2 separate regions of the Homo sapiens genome follow, and region 1 is linked to region 2. Evidence: fine-mapped expression QTL. Tissue or cell type: whole blood. Region 2 holds a variant in brackets; the other region holds the start of a gene. All regions are shown on one strand. Distances are from middle to middle.

What was found. PIP is the estimated chance that this variant, and not a neighbour inherited with it, causes the effect.
Region 1: it holds the start of AOAH, and the variant in region 2 is fine-mapped to the expression of AOAH in whole blood (INTERVAL, PIP above 0.99).

The regions. Positions count from the first base shown.
Region 1 is chr7:36,719,834-36,727,994 of GRCh38, reverse strand. AOAH (acyloxyacyl hydrolase) reads left to right here and starts at 3,501. Exons shown (of 21, transcript NM_001637.4): 1 at 3,501-3,973. The coding sequence starts at 3,847.
Region 2 is chr7:36,504,687-36,512,847 of GRCh38, reverse strand. No RefSeq gene overlaps it. Among named protein-coding and RNA genes, the nearest start is that of AOAH-IT1, 91 kb to the left of the region's middle. RefSeq lists an enhancer at 6,290-7,489. The variant C/G (reference allele first, on the strand shown) is at 5,000.

The DNA.
Region 1 (8,161 bases), 220 kb before region 2:
AGATGACGGATATCCTAATTACCCTAATTTGATCATTACACATTGCATGCACGTATTGAAATGTCACATGTACACCAGAAATATGTACAGTTATTATGTAGCAATTTTTAAAATCTTGATTTAAAAAACTTCCCCCAAAATTTCAATGCTACTTGAGAAGAATAATGTGAATTCATTGTCAGCTTCACATTCATCTAACAGTTAATATTATGTTTTTAAATTCATGTTGTCTCTCTAATTCTCACAATTTTCTTAAATATTGACATTATATGCCCTATTCTATAGTAAAATAAACTGGTATTCTGAAAGGTGGAGCAGCTTACCCAGGGCACACAGCTACTAGGAGGGGAGCCCATGACACAGGCCCCCCATCCTAGCCCAGAGCTCTTTTAATGAGCCCCCATGCATCCTCAGCATGGGTTAATTTACCCTGTCCTTAGCAGACAGCAGAACAGAATAGAATGAGGCTAGCGTTAATAAGCTCTGACTGAGGAGGAGGGGAGCAGCAGAGGGCCTGGTTTTGGTAGATGGGAACTGAGGACTGCTGTACACAGTCCTGGGCAGCCAGGAGTAACAGGGCAGCATGGACCTGGGCCTTAGAGAGAGGAGAAAGTCTAAGACGAGACACGTGTTGGTGACAGTGCCAGCTTTTACAGGATCTCCCATCACCCACCTCTTTTTTTTTTTTTTTTTTTTCTGATTAAGGAACTTGCTGTGGATGAGGTGGTTGAGGCCAATGTGGTCAAAAAATATTCAGGAAGCATATTCATACTGAACAAGCAGACCACAGGTGCAACACTTGGGGATCACAAAGCCTTAGCCTTCCATGGCACAGGGGAAAGCAGTGGTTTGAATCAGAGCTGTTTGAGTGAAATCAGTAACAAAGTGCTTCAGGGAAGAAATCTCATTTTCAAGAGCAGATTTCGAGATGATTCAAAATTGGAACATCTGACAGTGGGGTCCTGCAGGAACATTCTCCAGGGCCTGACTAGTTGTTCTAAACCACAGGTAGGTCCAGGGCCTTTTGGCAAGCTGTGCAAAGATCCCAAGTCATTTGCACTCAGTACTTGATGAGCAAAGGCAGCCCTGTCAGGGGCAATGATACCAGCCAGTGTGAAGGACAACTGTGCAAATGGGAGGGTCCACTCCATCCTGGTGACGGAGAGGGATGTTTTGTTCAGTGGTCTGTGCACACGTGCACTTTGTTCCAGCTTCTGCTGGCGAAATCACTTTCTGATTTCTGCATTCTTCCTTTGATCATGCCCAGTAAGAACTCACCCTCCAAGCATGAAAAATCCTTCCATTACTGAAAACCTATGTGTCAGGTTTTACCATGATATATTCCTACGAAGTAGATAGTCTCACCTCCCTTTTCTAGCTGAGGACTGTCACCTCTGGAAACAGGAAGGGGCTTGCTCAATACTGCACAGCTAAGTCAGCGACTCCCACTGTGACCAGCCCCGAAGCCTGAGCACACTAGAGAGTTTCAGAGCCGACCATCCCTGGGATGGTTGTGAATGGCACTGCCTGGCCCACATACATGCGATGAAGGGCACAAAACTTGCATTTCCGGCATACCAAGAAATCCCTCTCACTCTAAGAGTTTCCAGACCTGCTCGCAGCTATACATTGAGACCAGGAGAGCCTCAAGAGGCCCAAAGCCTGTGTCAAATGCTCTTCCAGAAGCCCTCAGGAGAGTCCTCACCCATTTATGGATTAGACAAACTAGACCACACACTCCTGGAGTGCTGTAGCACAGCTGGAAGGTATTCAATAAATCCTCCCTTTTCCTGTCCTCACCATTTCCCATGTATGACATGATGGCCTACAACTACCATGGGCGTCTTGGAATTCTCTTGAAGCTGGTCTGGGGTGCAGGTTTCATCACACTCCTGCTAGAGTCATAGACAGATGCACTAAGCACTTACTTCTTGCCAGCCATGCTGCTTTGTTGTTTGGATACATCATGTATTCGAGTGCTTCCAGCAGCGCATTGGAGCGGATATTACCATTATCCCAATAGAAATGAGCTACTTGGGAGGCTGAGGTGGGAAGATCACTTGAACCCAGGAGGTCAACACTGCAGTGAGCTGTGATCACACCACTGCACTCCAGCCTGGATGAAAAAGCAAGGCCCTGTCTCAAAAAACAAACAAACAACAACAACAACAACAAAAACAAGACACTGAAGGGGGGAAAGTTACATCACTGGTCTAATATATTACTCAGAATAAACAGTAGACATGAGACGTAAGCATGAGCCTTTCTGTCTTCACAATCTGAGTTCCTAATCAATCAGTCCTTTATTTAGCCTCCCTTGGAAGTCTCTGGAACTTCTCTAGGCCTCACCCCTGTGGTGGTCCTAGTGACCCCAGAGCTCCCCTTAGTCACAGAGTGAAGAACTGAAGCAGCAGCACCTTAGAGTCAGAGGAAGTCACAGGCCCATGGACGCCTAACGATATCCTCAGTATTGGGCTGGAAGTGTAATTAGGGAAACACTCTGACTTGTGCTATCTCTGCAGCAGGTTTGGGAATTGTAGCCCCATCGGTGCTTGTAAGACTAATGACTGCACAAGAAATCTTCCAACCATAAAAACTGGTATTTCCTACATCCTGGAAAGGATGCTACTCTAAAACTTTGCCTGCTACTCCAAATGCTATTTTTTTTAATTGCTAACAATTTAGATAGCTTCTATAATATTTCAAAATTTGTAATAAGCTCCCTCAGAGCCTAAGCAGAGAGAAACAGAATCTCATGACCTCCTACACTTACCTAGACTGTGGTACTTTGGCCCTGTCCTCTTATCTTGACTGAGAATGGCATATGATTTTGTTTTATCTTATTTTAGAGAGAAACATTTAGATTATATGTCTTTTATCTATGATCTGGTTCCGATTTTTTTTTTCCCTCAGAAAGACAGTGTTCAGTTCTATTCTTCAGAGCAGAAAATCAGTCTCTTAACAAATCATCCACAAAATGCACTTCGAAATTCTGGAGAAAAAAAAGATGCATTGTGCACAGCCTAGCAACTGTGAATTGATTAATTCTAACCCATGTTTTTTCTCATTAGGTCTAAAATCCCACCATGCTAACTGCCCATTATTTTCTGTACTGTTTATTTTCTGCACACCAAATAAAAGGCCTTGACCCTTCAAGGAATAACCCAATTTCTCCAGAGGAAAGATATTATTTGACCAGAATATCCTTTTACAACAAAATAAGGATCACAACCTTACCATATAAAGCTGTTGAAAACAAGACTAAGTAAGTTCTGAATGTAACCAATTAGAATTTCTACAATATGTGGGTGCTGCTGATCAAATTGTTAAAGGGTTGTGTGCTTGTGGATTAGTTTTTTTTTTCTTTTTTCTTCTCAGTTTTGGCTTTAGTATCGTTTTGTTTTGTTTTGCAAGAATGAAAGGGGAAGGGCCTCCTAACCAACCCAACAGATCAGTTCCGGCAAGCCTCGAGGCTCACGGGGTTTATGCACACTAACTTCACTGAGCCAGGGAGCACGGAAGTTGTGCCACTGTGCAACTTGGGTTTTCTTTATCCTGCAGTCTTTACCTCAGCAGAACCGCACACCACAGACTCCCTCCAGCTCTTTGTGTGTGGCTCTCTCAGGGTCCAACAAGAGCAAGCTGTGGGTCTGTGAGTGTTTATGTGTGCTTTTATTCACTTCACACTTATTGAAAAGTGTGTATGTGAGAGGGTGGGGTGTGTGTGTCAAAGAGAGTGAGGAAGAGAAGGAGAGAGAGATCAATTGATTCTGCAGCCTCAGCTCCAGCATCCCTCAGTTGGGAGCTTCCAAAGCCGGGTGATCACTTGGGGTGCATAGCTCGGAGATGCAGTCCCCCTGGAAAATCCTTACGGTGGCGCCTCTATTCTTGCTCCTGTCTCTTCAGTCCTCGGCCTCTCCAGCCAACGATGACCAGTCCAGGCCCAGCCTCTCGAATGGGCACACCTGTGTAGGTATGCAAATAAATATTTTTGTATTTTCTATGTAGACATAACAATGGGATCCAGTACTTTGCTTGCGTAATAAATCACATATTTTATTAAATCAAGAATTGTAAGATTCCAGGTAAGGCACCAGTAACCTCACTGACACAGAGAAATGTGGAGTCTAAGAGTAGACATTGACACTACATACATCTATGTGAATAAAAAGCATACTAGTTTAAATTGGGCATAAAACTCTTCCACCTCATTGGCGATTGGAATTTTTTCTTCTTGTATAGGTAACTATTATTTCAGGCTATTTTAGTCTGAAATTTTTACTGCTTTTCATGGGCTTTGACCTCATATAAACACATCTGAGTTTGAATCACTGCCCTCCTCCTACCCTTCTCTCCCATTTCCTACTGGCTGTGGAAACCTGGAGCAATGTACTTAACCCTCTCCATGCTTCTGTGTCCTTATTGGTGAACTGAAGTGAGTGAGACCCATCTCATAGGGATACCATGGAAATTGTGACCATGCATGTAAATCTGTGGCATGTGCACACAGTAAGGACTCAACCATCTTAGCTTCCTTCCGTCTCTCAGAGAATCCAGATTTGGCGATCACCTGGAGACGCTGAGCGTTGATATGGCTTCTTGGCTCATCTGTTAATGAAGTGTTTTATTTCCAAGAGGTTTTTTTTGTTTGTTTTTTTTGGATGAGAGCAGGAAGTAAGGTAAGATCTTTGATATTCACATTGTAGCTCTCATAACATGGGAATTCTCATAATAGTGGTGGCATTTAGATGGTACAGTCCATGGAGCCACATAGACTCAGAACTCTGAGTAGTAAGTAATTGTTCAATGAGCAGACCTCAAAATACAATCCTAGCTTGAGAAGCCAGGAAAATAACTCTAGGATAAGTCTGATGGCTACATGCTGCAAATGGAAAATCTGGACACAGATTCTGACACTTAGGAATTGTTTCTGGAGACAATATGGAAATATATCTGAATTTGTCCTACTTCCTCAAAATCATGGCCTCAGGTCATTGTACATGTTAGGAGATGCATCTCTACTTCCAAAGTCCTTTTTTTTTTTTTTTTTTTTTTTTTTCTGAGATGGATTATCGCACTGTCACCTGGGCTGGAGTACAATGGTGCAGTCTCAGCTCACTGCAACCTCTGCCTCCCTGGTTCACACAATTCTCCTGCCTCAGCCTTCGGAGTAGCTGGGATTACAGATGCACACCACCACACCCAGCTAATTTTTTGTATTTTTAGTAGAGATGGGGTTTCCCTATGTTGGCCACACTGGTCTCGAACTCCTGACCTCGTGATCCGCCCCCCTTGGCTCCCAAAGTGCTGGGATTACAGGCATGAGCCACCGCGCCCAGCCTCCAAAGTCTTGTTTTAATTAAGACCCAGATTCCCCAAGACTATTTTCCAGAGACCTGAAGGCAGAGGTGTGTGGTCCTTTGAACCATGCCTGGGAGATCATCCTCCCCCAGTATTTGGTTTCCTTAAATAACTATTTGCCACCTTTTCATTTTTCTCAAAACAAAACCCTACTGCCCATCAAATGGAAATACACTTGAGAAAAGCTCAGATGAAATCAGTTTTACTTCTGGGCTCATTGCAAACTAAATGTTTGAGTTTGGGCAAGTTGTCAGGGCTGAGATCCTTGGACCTTCACTTCAGTAAAATGGACAGGAGGTACACATTCCTTTCTCTGCCCTGTTCCCAGTGAGGTCATAGAGGGTAAGAAGGAGGTGTTGGGGAGATTTCAGGATGGGGTTGCTCTGGTTTTTCTATTATTGCTGCATCAAAAATTACAATAATAACCATTTGTTGTATTATGATTTTATGGGTGAAAAATTTGTTCGAACACTGGCTGGTGATTCTTCTTCTCCATGTAGGAGTGACCGAGGTTAGGAGGTGGTATTCGGATGGTGGATTGATGGATCTGGGACTGACAAAAACAGCTTCACTCACATATTTGGCACCTTAGGGGTGAGGGAATGGCTAGAGGGTTGGCTCATCTGGGAGTGCCATCAGAGTGCCCACACATGGCTATCTTGGGTAGTAGGCTTTCTTACCTGGCAGCTTAGGAATCCCAGAGAGAATTCCAAAAGACAGGAATTAGAAGCTGCCAATCTTTCAAGTTTTGGGTCTGGAAACAGGCACAGCATTACTTGCCATCTTCCATTGCTCAAAGCATTCACAAGTTCCTCCACCCAGACTCAAAGGGAGGGGGCAGAGACCCTTCATTTTGATGGAGAGGGTCAAGAAATGTGTGGTCATCTCTATCATTCACAGAGGTTCACTTTGGTTGCCCATACAAATTCTCATGGCCCCAAGGGCTTGGAGACTCTGTTGCTGATTAGGTTTGAGGATGATTTAGCATCCATTTTCCCAGCAACTCCCAACTTCTTCTGGTTAACTCTGCCTGGGTGACTTATTCACCTGTTGTCATAATAGCAAGAAAGGTGGGTGCAAGAGGAGTCCAGTCTTGTGATGAACACTTACTGAGCACTGCCTATGTGCTGAGACAGGGGCTGAAGGTGGTCCAACTTGGTGCTTCACTGATTGAAGTTGGCTTTTGGGGGAGACAGGATTAGAAATGTGTGTGCAGGGGAGTTTATTGAGAAGTGCTCTTGGCAAAAAGACGAGCAAGAGAGGAAGGCAGTGGGGTTGGCAGAGAGAAGCCGGGCTGTGCTGCAGCCATAAAAGAAGTCCCACTGAGAGCTCTGGGACTAAAATAGCTCTTCAGAGTTGTCCTGAAGTAGGTGCAGGTCTTGGAATTCCCACATCAAACAGTCCCTCGATGTGACCTGACCACAGGGGAGGGCTGTAATTTTGAGACATCTCCCGTTGGTGGAGACAGTTCTGGCAAGGGACTCTGATGCTGGCATAATCCTTCAGACCAATGGCTCCAGAAGCTGGGGAGCGAGTGTCTCCTGATACGGGATCCTGGGGTGTACCTGCTGGAAGGGTTGTATGTGGGAAGCATCTCAGGAAGCAGTGAGGTCCGCTCTCTCGCAGCTGGTGGGAAGAGGAAGAAGTGTGTGGAAGAGAGGAGAAAAGAGAAGGAATTGTTGATTGGAGTTCTTCTAACTCTACATTTGTTGCCAACACCCTAACAACTTTCTGACAAAAAGCAGGGTTACATGACTTCAAACCCTCCAGCAGAAAGGTGGTCCCCAAACATTTCCGCGCACTCAGTTCTCACATGGCCACTGAATATGCGAGAGCAGGGATACACAGATGAAGGAGAGGAAGGATTTTTAGAATGTCTGTCTTCAGGAAATTCACTGTCCAGTTTAGAGGAAAACGAAAACCTGGAGCCTTGTAAAGATTACAGTCCTTTAAAATGAATGTTGAACTGGGCCCTTAGTGCCCTTGATAATACCCTTTCTCTAAAACTCTTTAAACTGCCAATGCCAGAGCCAGCAGAGCACCATGAAGTGCAGGGCAGAGGCTCATAGCTTGGAAGCAGGCACTGCAGACTCCGCTCATAAAGCCACCTGGGGAAGGTGAAGTAATAGCCTCAAAAAGAGTGTTTAAAACTTTAAGATTTTAGGTCGTGTGTGGTGGCTTACGCCTGTAATCCCAGCACTTTGGGATGCTGAGGTGGGCAGATCACGAGGTCAGCAGATTGAGACCTGCCTGGTCAATATGGTGAAACCCTGTCTCTACTAAAAAAAAAAAAAATGTAAATATAGATATACAAAAATTAGCAGGACACGGTGGGGCATGCCTGTAGTCCCAGCTACTCAGGGAGCTGAGGCAGAAGAATCGCTTGAACCCAGGAGGCAGAGGTTGCAGTGAGCCGAGATCACATCACCACGCTCCAGCCTGGGCGACAGAGCGAGACTCCATCTCAAAAAACAAAACAAAACAAAAAAAAAAACTTTAGAATTCTAGAAACATTTCTACCTGAATATTGCTAGTCAAAGAAGGAAGCTTCAGTTATCTCAAAGATTCTGTTGCATTCACCTGCTTGCTGAAAGAACCCAGGCCACAGAAACTTTTCTGAGCAAAAGGTGATTAGGCAGCTGGATTTCTGATCATCCCATCTGAGCAAGAATGATTCATCTTTTTTTTTTTTTTAATAAAGACAAAGTCCTACTCTATCACCCAGGCTACAGTGCAGTGGTACAATTATAGCACACTGAAGCCTCAACAGCCCAGGCTCTAGTGATCCTCCCACCTCAGC
Region 2 (8,161 bases):
CGAGCTGAGCTTCCTCCTATGCAGGCGGCTGGCCAGCTGCCAAGGACTCACACAAGGGGGCAGAGCAGGCTTCATGAGGCCCCCTTGAAAAACATAACACAAAACTATAAATACAAAATTAGACATGAACTTGAATACACATTTAGAATGAGGAAAGAAATCACCACAAATTACAAATGTTTAAAAGTTGACAAAGTGCCATATAACCTCACAAAGTCCAGAAAAATGACAATACAATTTTTTTCCTTTAAAGTATTTTATTAGTTGATTAGTGGGTATAAATGTACAGTTAGATAAAAGAAATAAGGCCTAGTGTCTGACAGATCAGTAGGGTGACTATAGTTTACTAAATGCTATTGTACATTTCATTTCAAATCGCTAGAAGAAAATAATTTGAATGTTTCTAGCATACAGAAAAGACAAATATTTAAGGTGATAGATACCCAAAGTACACTTATTTAATCTGTACAGGAAGACTCCAGAGTAAAGGGAGGGTCTCCCGGCCTGACTACCTCCCTTCTCCCACCCTATATGTCTTCTCTGAACCTGTCACTTCCCACCCCTCTAAAAAAGACTGTTTAAATTCTCTTAGGCCTGACCACTCACAACCTTGGGGAATCACCTAACATCTAACCAGTTCCATCTTTTGAATGGGCTCAGGTGGGAAAACAAAGGTACCCAAATCCTGAGCTTTGACCTTACTCTGAGGCACAGCACCAAGGAACTGAGGGGTGGAAGAGGACGTTGACCCCATCTCACTTTTTCAGAAAACACAAATACTGCAAATAAATACCACATGGAAATCATTACTAAATACCACTATTGCCTGCAAAACTGGAGTCTGAGGTCAGGCCCTCTGCCCTGGATCAGGTGCCCGGGCAAGGCTCATTCACTTCTGCCTGCATTTTCTATGCTCCAGACACGTTCCTTCTTTGAGATTTGACCAAGTCTTTCTCTCTGGCTTGAGAATGCCGTCCCTGTGCTTTGCGTACTTCTTATAACAGCACCTATCCCGTATTGCTGCACAGGTGCCCCTTGAGCTACTGTCTTCAGCCTTGAGTTTTCCAGAATGATGGTGTCTGAGGATTGTCCACTGACAGGCACCTGAAGGGCTTTCCTGGGTTGGCATGCTGCCCTCCCCATCTCCCCATTCCTGGAGGGGCTGTGGAAAAAAGCACCGGAACCTGAACTGCAGGCTCCATGAGATGGGTACCTGGCCGGTCATGTGTACTCCTGTGTCCAACCCCCAACACAATGCCTGACCACTGCAGACGCACAAGAAATAGCACTGAATGAATGAGTGAATGAGAAGTTAGTGTTGCTCTCCAGGTCACACTGTTATTTCTTGCTATTTAAAAGTAAAATCAGCAGCCTCTTTTTTGACACATTTGAATTAGACCCATTGAATCACGCTCCTCGCTCATCACGGTGAGAAGAGTGAGAAAGAAAAGCCATCAGAGGCGCCTTCTTCCCTGGGCACACTTGGTGAGGGGACTTGGGGCTCTTATGTGATCTTCATCTAAATACCCCAAAACTCTATTATAATTTCTGTCTCCCAGCCGAGCACTGTGGCTCACACCTATAATTCCAGCACTTTGGGAGACGGAGGTGGGAGGGTCACTTGAGCTCAGGAGTTCAAGACCAGCCTGGGCAACATGGTGAAACCCTGTCTCTACAAAAAAAAAAAAACAAAAAAAAAAACAAAAATTAGCTGGGTGTGGTGGCACACACCTGCAGTCCTAGCTGCTTGGGAAGATCACTTGAGCCCAGCAGGAGGTCGAGGGAGTGAGCCCAGACTGCACCGCTGCACTCCAGCCTGGGGGATAGAATGAGACCTTGTCTCAAAAAAAAAAAAAAAAAAAAAGAAACAGATACTCTCTCCTGTTATCAGAGGAGAGACCTGGCTTGCCCTACACTATTGAAATAGAGCTCACTATTTGCCACATGAGTAATTACCAAAATTTCTATTTCCACCCACCATGAGCATTTTTCATTTCATGCTGAGCCTTTTGGGTTCAGGCCCTGGTGACAAAAATAAAGTCAGCCCCCCAGAAAAAGCAGATCAGCTAAAAATCTCTATATGGGACTTGTATTGATACACAATGTGACCGGACCTGAATCTCCCCAGAATCCGCACCAGCTTCCCAATCCCTCCCTGCTCTGTCACTGATTTAATCCAACTGAGAAAATTTTCTTAACTAGGGTCCTTAGGGATCCCCAGAATTAATAGTGCCTGTAAACTTGAATGGGAAAAAAAATAAGTCTTCACTGTCTTCTAAATGCTAATGCTAAAATTTAGCATTTCCTTTCATAATGAATGTAGGTAACAAAACACAGCTGAATTAGTCCTTGTCACAAATATTTTCACATCACATTGCAGTTGTTGCAGTTACTGTTGCTTATTTTTTGTAGCAGTTATGTTCTATAAAGTTGCCATGAACACTGAATTAGCACATGCTGAACCATTGTCCTTAGGGGAAGTACAAGGCTAGGTTCCTGTGAGCCTGCAGTCTCAACATTTTCACCAACCAATCAATATATAACTGTTTTCCGTGTGGCTTTTGTTCAAAAGACACCGTATTTAATATACAGTGGATTCATTAACATTGACCGCACAGGCAACAGCACTGTAACTCCTGCCTGCAAAGAGCTCATCTACCACTGGGGTGATTTTCTTGGTGCGGCACGTTGCAGTCTTCTGTGGCACATCACTTAGCAGCACTAGCTAGCACTTCAGCACTGCCCTTCATGGCCATTTTAAACAGCAACATCACCGGGAAAAAGCATGAAATGCCAAAAATGTGGCACTAAGTATACTGCGAAGAGGACACAGGTTTGCAGTATGAGAGCTGAAACAAGAAGGCAAAACTTGACCGGTCGCAGTGGCTCATACCTGTCATCCCAGCACTTTGGGAGGCCGAGGCAGGTGGATCACCTGGAGGTCAGGAGTTCGAAACCAGCCTGGCCAACATGGGGAAACACCGTCTCTACTAAAAATACAAAAATTAGCTGAGCGTGGTGGTGTGTGCCTGGCATCCCAGCTACTCTGGAGACTGAGGCAGGAGAATCACTTGAACCTGGGAGGCAGAGGTTGCAGCGAGCCGAGGTCATGCCATTGCATGCCAGCCTGGGCAACAAGAGCAAAACTCTGTCTCAAAAAAAAAAAAAAAGGCAAAACTTCACTTTGCCAACCAATCTCATCTGGGGAACATGCCAGTTGGGCAACTCAAATTTGTCATTGGTCTGTGCATGGGCACAGATGACTGCAAAGGCGCCACAAGTATACATTAATGTTACAAATAAATTTTAGCAAGGAGGTGAATTCACAAATATGTGATCAGTGAACGATGCCGATCAACTATATCTTATACTTTAAAACATCAATACCTTAAAACAACTGTAGTTATTAGAACCAACTCTGGATCTGGTTATTAACACGTTCAAAAAGAAGCCCATATATTTATATATGCTCATTTGTGAATATCTCAAAATATTCTTTGATATTCTATTTCAATAGAATTGGTTTTCTTCGTAATCCTACATGTTTTGTTTTTTTGCATTTAAAAATGTTATTCTGGCTGGGCATAGTGGCTCACGCCTATAATCCCAGCACTTTGGGAGGCTAAGGTGGAAAAACTGCTTTAGCTCAGGAGTTCCAGACCAGCCTGAATATCACAGTGAGATCCCGTCTTTACCAAAAGTCAAAATGATTAGTTGGGCATAGTGGCACATGCCTGTGGTCTCAGCTACTTAGGAGGCTAAGGCGGGAGGATGGCTTGAGCCTGGAAGTTCAAGGCTGCAGTGAGCCATGATCTTGCCACTGCACTGCAGCCTGTTGACAGAGCAAGACCGTGTCTAAAATAAAATAAAATGAAAATGTTATTCTGAGAAGGGATCCTCAGGCTTCCCCAAACTGCCAAGGGGCTGCATGGCACAAAAAGGATGTATGCGCTGTGGGTGGGGTGGGGGTGCTTTGAGAAGGAAGAACTCCAAAGTCTGAAAAGTTTGGATGCACAGCATAATTTATTTGCTTCCTGGAAAGTCACAGGGTGAAAATTCTACAGTAAAAAAGTCTGGGCCGGGTGCAGTGGCTCACCCCTGTAGTCTCAGCATTTGGGAGGCCAAGGCAGGCGGATCACGAGGTCAGGAGATTGAGACCATCCTAGCCAACATGGTGAAATACAAAATACAAAATTTAGCTGGGTGTGGTGGTGCGCACCTGTAATCCCAGCTACTCCGGAGGCTGAGGGAGGAGAATCGCTTGAACCCGGGTGGCGGAGGCTGCAGTGAGCCGAGATCGCGCCAATACACTCCAGCCTGGGTGACAGAGTGAGACTCCGTCTCAAAAAAAAAAAAAAAACCAAAAAACTCTGCTCCGCTCATCATTTACCCAAGATTTTGACCTAAGCTTTTTGTTCTCATGATGCCTATTAACACTCTGTGGCATCTGCTTTTTCAGAAGCACCTTGGAAGATGTTGTTTAGAGGAATTAGCCTCTGTCTCACACACTCCCTGGCAGTGTCAAGAAAGGGATTTCCCAGGTATTTTAAGACCAGAATTCCCGACCTCTCATCTTTGGTGTGAGGCAGAATGTCTTTGGAATCCCTTTCATTGCAACAACAGCTTTCCTGGTGGAACCAAAAGTGACAAAGACAGCATCTCTCCTGGGCCCCAAGATGCATGGCGCACATTCACTGTGCTATATGGATTTCCTGATGGATGGATGCATCAATATGCTATTAACATGTCAGTTTCTCATTAAATCTGAGTACAGAACCCGTGTTTGCCTGGCGGGATGAACTCCCCTAATCTGATTTGGCAGAGGCTCTAGCATAAATATTCGTACAAGCTAAGGCTCTTTTAATCTGGGCCTTTGCTTAGGGTAAAGGGGAATGGGGAGAGGTTGCTTGTAAAGCCTGTTTTCTGGGTCACTTCTTAAAACTGCAGTATCAAAAATAATGGCCTCATCATCATGAACCTGTCGTTAAGGAGGATTACA[C/G]TTTGAAGCTCTTGGATGGATGGAAAGGCAGAGGAGAAATAAAGAGCACATGTTGAGGCTCGCTAAGGATTTATTTGGGTATTGTGCTCCTGGCTTGCTGCTTTGTTTATAATTAATTACATGGAGCATTTACAGGAAGACTTCCAGCCTCAGAGCGCTAATGTAACTCACAGGTTCACAAAGCTCCAGTCAATAAACCTCAGCAGAAAGACGGCTGAGAGGATGCACCAAGGGCTTCCATGACCTGTCCAGGCTCAAGGCAGCTTCAGACCCCAAAGACTTTCAGTTTCACCTAAGGACTCTGCCCTCCAAGATGCACACTTTGTACAGGCTCAGAAAAGCCCCCAGCTGTTAATATTATTACAGTGATTTTCTGCAAATATCAGTTGGAGCCAGGAGGTTGAGTGAGGCTGTAGGGGAGCAAAGGACTCTTCAGGGACAGGTAGAGACTCCAGGCTCGTGTAAGTCTCATGGAAAGAATGCAATTCTGCTCAGCTGCCTCCTGGAGCTGGGGACACATGGAAACACAATCAGTGGGAATTCATGAAGCAACAGGCCTTGGAAGCCTTAAGCTCCTGGTGCCTCAGTTACCTTCTCCTTAAAAAGGGAGCAATAGTACCATTTTCCAGCACTGTTGTGAGCATTAACAAGAGCTAATGCTTACAGAGGGGTAAGTGACAAGTAGAGTGCATATATGATCTCACTTAACCCTTACAGCAACCACATGTGGCAGGTCTGCTATGATTCCCTACTTTTACAGATAGGAGGCCGAGAACAATTAAGTAACTTGCCTGAGACTGCACAGCTAATACGTGATGAGTCAGGTGCCATGCATGGTGACTCATGCCTGCAATCCCAGCAATTTGGGAGGGCAAGGCAGGAGGATCGCTTGAGCCCAAGAGTTTGAGACCAGCCTGGAAAACATGGTGAGGGCCCTGCACAAAAATAAAAAGTCAGGCAGGCATGGTTGTGCACACCTATATTCTCAGCTACCCAGGAGGCTGAGGCTGAGGCTGAGGCAGGAGGATCGCTTGAGCCCATTTCAATGATTGCACCACTGCAATCCAGCCTGGGCAACAGGGTGAGACCCTGTCTCAATAACAATAATGTGATGAGTTATGATGTTGAAGGCAAGCCATTTGGCTCCAGGGTCCTTGCCCCTAGCTGCTAGGCTATCCTGCATTTATTAAGAAGATGACGTATGTAAAACATGCTGAGTGGTGAATCAACAGTGGCTCTTAGCATCATTATAACCAGGATGTGATCTGACCACCACATGTGCTAGAGTCAGCTTTGTCTGTAGCGTAAACTCCAAACTCGTCACCTGCAGAGTCCATGTCTCTCCAGGCTCTCTCTCCCGCCCATTTCTTCTTTGATCCTGCATCCCAGTCACAGGAAGCTTGTCATTACAAAACATGGGCAGTAGGTAAGTCTCCAAAGCTGGCTGCCAAAAATGGCCACCCTCCTGCGTGTGCCTGCTTCTCCTCCAACAAGAGGCGGCATCTTTCCCACCCCTTGAAGCTGGGCTGGCCCAGAGAAGGAAATGCAAGTGAGACTGCCACACCCAGGCCTTGCCCTTAGGAGGTGAAGCTGCCCTCTGCACCCTTTTAGATCTCACAGCCACCATGTTGAAACGGCTACATTGTCTGGGGTATATACCTGGCATTCATTGTTTCTCCCTGAGAAAGAATTCAGGACATGAACACATGTGGGTGGGTTAAGGAGTGGAAAGTTTAATAGAAGAAAGGAGACAGGAAAGCAGCTCCCTGTGAGAAAGAGAGAGAGAGAGAGAAAGGCATCTGAAAAGCAGGGAGGCAGCAGACTGCAGCAGATTTTATAAGCAGGCTGGGGAAGGCTGTGTCTGATTTACTTAGGGCTCACAGATTGGTTCTATCAGGTATGATGCTTACATAGTGTGGAAGGCTGGTCACCCCACCCTAATCGTATTATTCAGATGGACTTTTTAGTTGATCAGCGCCATCTTGTCTGCTCTTTACTGTACACATGGCTGACGAAGAAGGGAAGATGGAGCTGCCATCTTGAACATGTCTAGTCCCCAGTTCCTGCCAGCATTCACCCATGCAAGCTCCCAGCTTGCTTGTCTATGTCTGCAGCTAGACTTTACAGGCTGCTCTGTTATAAAATGAGTTGGCGCTGCTTTTCATTAGAGAGAAAAGACTTACCGAGGACTCCCATACCCTTACTATCTGCCTAAGTGATTTTTTTCTTAATTCCTTTATCAATGTGGGGAAGTCCAGGCTGCACTCCTGCAAGAGAAACCCTGGGGGATGACACACCACGTGAAGGAGAAAGGCTGCATGGAAAAAAACTGAGGTACCTCTGCCCACATTGAGGCCTCAAAAGTATGAATGAGCATTTGGACTTCCAGTCCAGCTCGAGCCCAGCCAACCCACAGAACCATGGGATATAATGCACTCTTCCTGTTTCAAGCCTCTAAGTTTCCGAGGGGGGTTTTATGCAGCAACAGTGAACTGAATAAAAGGCCCTCCCTCTCACAGCTCCATGCTTTTCCATAGGCTGTTTCCTCCAGGAAACTGGAACACTCCTTCTTCAAGATCCAGCTCCCGCATGGTTGTCATAGAGGGAAACATACCGACACACTCCTAGTCTACTGGAGGACATAAGTGTCTTTAGGGTTAGGTTCTACTGCTTATGGGTACAATCCAGAGTAATGATGGGTTTTTCTTTAAAAAAAAGAAAGGCTATTTTTCTCACATAAAGGACACCCAGTGGTGGGTGGTGCAGGGCTCAGACAGGACTCCATGTTGCCACGGACTCCTTCTGAGAGGTGAAGCCAGCTGGGCTTCTGAGTCAGGTGGGGCCTTGGAGAACTTTTCTGTCTAGCTAAAGGTTTGTAAACGCACCAATAAGCACTCTGTAAAAACGCACCAATCAATGCTCTGTGTCTAGCTAAAGGTTTGTAAATGCACCAATCAGCACTCTGTAAAAGCGCACCAATCAGCACTCTGTAAAAGCACACCAATCAGCACTCTGTGTCTAGCTAAAGCATTGTAAATACACCAATCAGCACTCTAAAAATGCACCAATCAGCACTCTGTGTCTAGCTAAAGGATTGTAAACGCACCAATAATCACTCTGTAAAATGGACCAATCAGCACTCTGTAAAATGGACCAATCAGC